Linked DNA regions of Homo sapiens: region 2 is linked to region 1. The links come from fine-mapping of genetic effects on gene expression. A gene starts in region 1. The other region holds a variant in brackets. All regions are shown on one strand. Distances are from middle to middle. Region 1 holds the start of CLBA1 (clathrin binding box of aftiphilin containing 1). Region 2 overlaps LINC02691 (long intergenic non-protein coding RNA 2691).

Region 1 (2,894 bases):
CTCCTGCCCCCCTCCCAGCTCCCTGGGCCTCAAGGACGGCAAGGACGTGCAGTGGATGAGGGGCAGCAGTGGGAACGGACACTGCCCTTAAGCTGGCAAGACAGGCCCAGGCCTGGTCTACAAACCCAGCCAGCTCCTGATCACCATCCTTAGGGTCACTGCGGTGCTGGGGTGGCCAAGCCAAGATCCAGTCCTGGGCAGTCTGACCGAAGAGCTTCCATACTGCATGGCCCGGCTGCTCTGCCCCTCAGGAAGGAGCGGGGACAGGAGGCTGGGTCTAAGGTGCAGAGAATGATCTCATCTTGTCATTTGTAAAATTAAATTGTTCTGTAGCTTGGCTGAGAAGGACCAGGGAGGGAAGGGGTGATTCAAGCAAGGACAGAGTCCAGGCAGGGCCCCAGGCCCCAGGGTGGGAGAAATGCGAGCCTGAGGTAGATAGGGGGTGGACAGTAGGTGGCATGGTTCAGGGCTTCACCAGGGCCAGGCCCTCCCCTTACCCAGAGGAGGCAGTGATGGGGGCCAGTCTGGGAAGGCCAGGGAGGAGATGGAGTCAAGGTTGACTCCTTGAGTCTGGGGGTGAGGGCAGATGGCAGAAGGCCTGGAAGCCCGGAGGGGAGCTGCCAGAGGCCAGCCTAGCTCCTTGGTCGTCCAGTGGCTGGAGAGGGGCTGTCCGTCAGCCCTGCTCTGCCCGGGTCTGGCTGGTGACAAAGGAGGGGAGCACTCCATGCGGCCTGCGAGGGAGGGGTGGAGCCTCCCCGCAGCTCCTTCCCCCAGGAATGGGGACGAGTTAGGGGCGGGCGAGGTTTTGGGATTCAGGAGTCAGCAAGACGGACTTGGCTCTCGCCAGGGACAGGTGGGGTCCTGAGGGGCCGTCGCTCAGCTGCACCCACAGAGGGGTCGGCGGCGCGGCAAGTTAGGCTGCGGGGCGCCGGGAGAAGGGGCTGCGGGTGACGGGTGCGCTGGGACGGACCTGGGGAGCTCGTCGTGAGGAAGAAAGAACCACTCTAGGGCCAGGCCCAGTGGCTCAAGCCTGTAATCCCAGCACTTTGGGAGGCCGAGGCGGGCGGATCACGAGGTCAGGAAATCGAGACCATCCTGGCTAACACGGTGAAACCCAGTCTCTATTAAAATACAAAAAAATCAGCCGGGCGTGGTGGCGGGCGCCTGTAGTCCCAGCTACTCGGGAGGCTGAGGCAGGAGAATGGCGTGAACCCGGGAGGCGGAGCTTGCAGTGAGTCGAGATCGCGCCACTGCTCTCCAGCCTGGGCGACAGAGCGAGACTCCGTCTCAAAAAAAAAAGAAAAAAAAAAAAAAGAAAGAACCACTCGGGCGGCGAACTGAGCACGGACAGAAAGCTCGAGCGGCCCGGCGCCCAGGGCTCGGCCAGTGTGGAAGCCCGATCCCACCCGCAGCGGAGGCGGCCCGGGGCAGGGAGGGCGGGTCCGGGGCGGGTCCTGAACGGCGGGGGCCGGCGCTGGCCTCGCCCCGGATGCGTGCTGACGCCACGGCGACGGACGCCGGAAGCGGAGCTGGCGCACGCCGTTGCCAGGCAACGGGGCGGCGCAGGCAGGAGGGAACGGCTGGTTGCAGGTTTCTCTCGCCCTGGTCCCGCGCGGCCCCGCCGAGGCGGCGACCAAGGTGGGTGCGGGGACTCTCGGGAGCCGTGGGCCAGGCGCTTAGCCGGCCACCTCGGGCCCTGTCCAGGCCCAGGCGTTCCAGGGCTGCTCTGCGGGCCGCGTGCGAGAGGGACTCTCGGGAGGCCCCGGGGCGCCGCACCCACTCCTTCCCACTTGGGACTCCCGCGGGCGCCCGGCTCTCGCTCCTCTGGCCAGCGTGGGCCTCCCAGGCCCCCTCGCGGCTCTCTCCAGAGCAGGAGCCCCACCTTGGGCCGCCCCTCTCACACCTGCCGTGGGTCTGGTACGCGCCTCTGTGTCGGACTCCGCGCCCGCCTGCGTGGGAGGAAGCCAGGACTCCCGGGCGACCGGGCCATTCCTGTGGTTTGTGTCAGTTCCACAGCAGCACGTGGGCACTTTCCACCGTCAGCCACTGGGCAGCCCGGGGCACTCCTGCAGCGTCCCCTGGCCCTCTCCAGGGCAGGGGAAGGTTGGGCAGTCCTGGGCGGCCAGCACCCCGGCGTGCATGTCTCCTGAGCAGCTGCCCATCGGGCCTCTGCTGGCCTGGGGGCTCCAAGATGCAAGGCCGGCGGGAGCTGGGGGGAGAGCCTTTGAGTGACCTCCAGGAGGAAGCAGCCAGCGCTTCCCTCCGAGTGGCACCTGAGAGGCTGAGTGATGACAGTTTGGAATGGAGACGGACCTGCCCCGACCTTCTCCTGTCCGATGGGAAAGCCAGCATCTCCATGCCCCGTGAGGGCGGTTCCACCTGCACTGCCCGATGTCCTGACCCTGGGGAACACAGCAGCACTTGGGGGGAGTTTGAAGGCTTTCGGGAATCTTCAGCCAAGTCTGGACAATTCTCACAGTCCCTTGAACTCCTCGAGGGACCCACAGAACCCCAGCCACCGAGAACCACTTCTGCCCCAAAAGAGTGCAGTTCTCACCAACCATGCCAGGGTGGACCTTGGGTGACAGGAACTTCTGCCGTCCCACCTTCTGAGGTATTTCTGCTGTGCTGTGGTCACCATGTTGAGTGGGACGTGTACACACCAAGAGGCCTACAGCCCTCGAATGCTGTGGCGTGCTGGCCAGGGAGGGGGCTGACAGCCCCAGAGCGTCTGCTTCTCTCCTGGCCTTCGTCCCTGGCCATGTGGTTGGCAGTCCCATCCTGAGGCCAGGGAAGCAATGAGTTGGCAGAGGAGGCTGCAGAAATGGGTCACACGAAGGCCAGGTGGGGGCCACCTGAGCTGGGTCGCTCTTTCTGACCATTCCTCCCCCAGC
Region 2 (2,894 bases), 760 kb before region 1:
GGCAGAGCTGGAGACTAAGGTGACTCTAGGGGGAGGCATGGAGAGGTAGAATTGCTTGGGAAGAGTAACTTGTTCAAGGTGATTGGAGCGTAGACTTTGGTGGTGGCAGGAGGGTGGAGTGAATGGGCAGGAAGCTGGGTACGAGGTGGAAAGGCCTTGGACTTGACTCTAGAAATACTAGGAAGCCACCAGAGGGCTTGAGCAGAGGTGACGTGACCAGATCCTTCCTGTGTTCCTGTGAGGATGGGTAGACAGGGCCCCCTGGGAGCTCACAGAGGTGGAGTACTTTGCCCAAGGTGGCGAGAGGGGACGCCCGCAGCCTGGGTCCCAGTGCAGCCCTTGTTCCCATGGGTCCAGATTCCTGAGCCTCACCCACCCCTCCCTCACCACTGCCACCTGGCCAGTAGCCACAGGTGGCTTCCAGAGCACTCTCTTACCGTCCCCCAGGGTTTTCTGGGTACTGACCTTCTCTCTCTCACTTGGGATACCCACCCCTATCAGGGAAATCAGGGGAGGCACTATTGTCTCCTTTACAGAGGAGTAAACTGAGGCTGGGTTAACATTACTTGTTCAAGTCACTCAGCTAAGACGGGCAGTGCTGGGATTTGAACCCAGCTCTGCCTGGCTTCTGAGCCTGAGCTGACTTCAGTGCCCGGCCCCCAGATCTGCACACCAGTGTGCCCCAACTGCCTGGTGAGTGGCCAGGCCAGAGGGAAGCAGGGAGCAGGGTGGGCCCAAGGCGAGGCTCAGCGAGAAGGCAGGAGCAGTAGCCGTGGGGCAGCACTTGGGGTATGTGGGCCATGGGGAAATGGGCACCAGGGGTAGAGCCCCTTTGGGGGGCTGTGGAGGGGGAGCAGCGGGGAGTGCAAGGGGATGTGACACAAGCCCCTTCTGAGGGAGGACTTGGTGGCCGGTTGCTCTTGAGTGGTGCCTGCCTCAAGGCCTGGGCTGTGTCCTGCCCTCCTGCTGCCCCGGCCACCTCTGACAGACCCTGCTAACTGTGGTCAGCCTGGCAGGGCTGGCATGGCAGAGCAGGCCTGTGGTGCCACCCTGACCTGGCCACTGTGGTCCTTATCCTGGGTCAGGAGCCGTCCCCGCCCCAGGCCCATGTTTTCCATCTGCCGGGGACCCTGCCCAGGAGGGGCACATGTAATGCTAGCCTCGTTGTGCAGGGCGGCTCCTGGCTGAGGCCTTGACTGAACTTGCATCTACATTTAGACTGAAATGCACCGAGAGGCTGGGCCTGCTGTGTCCCAGGGGCTGCGGACGGGGTGTCCATCCTGCCTGGGTAGGATGCATCTGCAGGGTGCCTCCCACCACACGCTAAAGTGGGGTCATCACCCCTGGGTGGCCTGGGTCACCAAGATGCTACCCCACCCAGCCTGATGGGATGCCTGAGCTCCAAGCCTGCCCCCTCACAGGGGAGATGATGGCCCCACGAAGGCCCCCCTGGGTGCTTGTGGTGGCCGCTCACTCAGTCTCTCTCTCTCCAAAGCGGCCTGCCCGTCCGCGAAGTCACTTAGCTGGGATCTAATCGGGTTTCACAGGGGCATAAATTACTTGGCTAGAGGTTGTTCCCGGGTGTTTCCACCCCGGGCCTGTTATTTACACACCGTGCGGTAATGTAGTCACGGCCTTGGGTGC[G/A]CAGTATTTATGGTGTTTGATCGGCTTCCAGCCCAGGCCGCCTGTCCAGGAACATTTGTTGAGATGTTGTGCAGAGCCGCTGGGGACCTCTGCCACAGGCGGGCATCAATCTACCTGGAGCTCCTGCGGCAGCCCTGCAGAGCCTCAAAAGGGCAGGGCGGGCCTGTGGTGCCACCCTGAGCTGGTCACTGTCTGCAGATGGCAGCTCTAGGAGTGATGGCTGAGGACGAACAAGGGTGCGAACTGTCACTGACATTTCCGTGGGGCGTGGACGTGACACATCCCGAATGCCATACCTGGCTGTGGACAGTCGCACCGTTAAAGGCAGCAGCGCTAACTGCCGTTCACGGAGCACCCACTGTCTGCTAAGCTCAGTGGAAGATCCTTTGTTTTATTCTCTCCGTGAGTGCTTGTCGCAGCCCTGCAAGGTAGGTGTCCCTGATGGGAAACTGAGGCTCAGTCACTGCAGGTGACTTCCCAAAGGAACACAGCCTGGGAGCTCCATGTGGCAGCTTCCTCTGGCTCTTACAAGGGGAAGGATGAGCTCCCGTTGGTTGCTGGGGTCCCGCCCCTTTGCCTTCATGTCTGTGATGGTGGAAATGCTTCATAAGGAGTGTAAAGTGGTTTTTGTTCCCGACCCAGAGAGATCTGGTCACGGTAATTCTGTATCTGCTTGCCTATATTTATCCCCCAAGTCCGGCTGGTGACAGGGAAGCAGATGATCAGTGCCAGGCCTGATAAATTGGACCCAGGGCTGAGGCGGGAGAGAAACCCTGTTTTATTGTTGAAGACAAAGCCGTCGGGCAGGAGGCATATGTTGTGTTGGAGCCCTCGCTGCGACGGAGGCCCTGGGCCTCAGAGCAATCAGGGCTTTCACGAGCACCCCCCACCCACTACCTACGTGGGAGGCAAGGACCCCCATTAGCCCGGCTGGCTGTGGGGGAGGGGCTGACAGAATGTCAGTGGGGTGGAGGGGAGAGGAGGTGATCAATGAGGACTTATTGACTTGCATCTTTCCCCACGACTTGATTAAGACCACTATGGAGATGAGGCCTGAGGAGGGGGCTAGGGCCAGAGCCCCGGGCCAGTGTGGCTTAGGGGATCTTTTATGTTTGGAGGGCAGGAAGGGAACAGAGAGCTGCCGGCTTTGTCAGATGCCTGAAGAGTATTGATCCATATTAGAAATGATAATGAGCCAATTCTGCTGGGCTGGGAGGCCTTAACCATTTCATTGCTTACAAGGCTGTCCT

What was found. PIP is the estimated chance that this variant, and not a neighbour inherited with it, causes the effect.
Region 2: its variant is fine-mapped to the expression of CLBA1 in ileum (GTEx, PIP 0.92).

The regions. Positions count from the first base shown.
Region 1 is chr14:104,984,241-104,987,134 of GRCh38, forward strand. CLBA1 (clathrin binding box of aftiphilin containing 1) reads left to right here and starts at 1,548. Exons shown (of 5, transcript NM_174891.4): 1 at 1,548-2,614. The coding sequence starts at 2,192. RefSeq lists a silencer at 1,337-1,806.
Region 2 is chr14:104,228,140-104,231,033 of GRCh38, forward strand. The region is part of intron 1 of LINC02691 (long intergenic non-protein coding RNA 2691); the gene reads left to right. Among named protein-coding and RNA genes, the nearest start is that of LINC02691, 6.0 kb to the left of the region's middle. The variant G/A (reference allele first, on the strand shown) is at 1,645.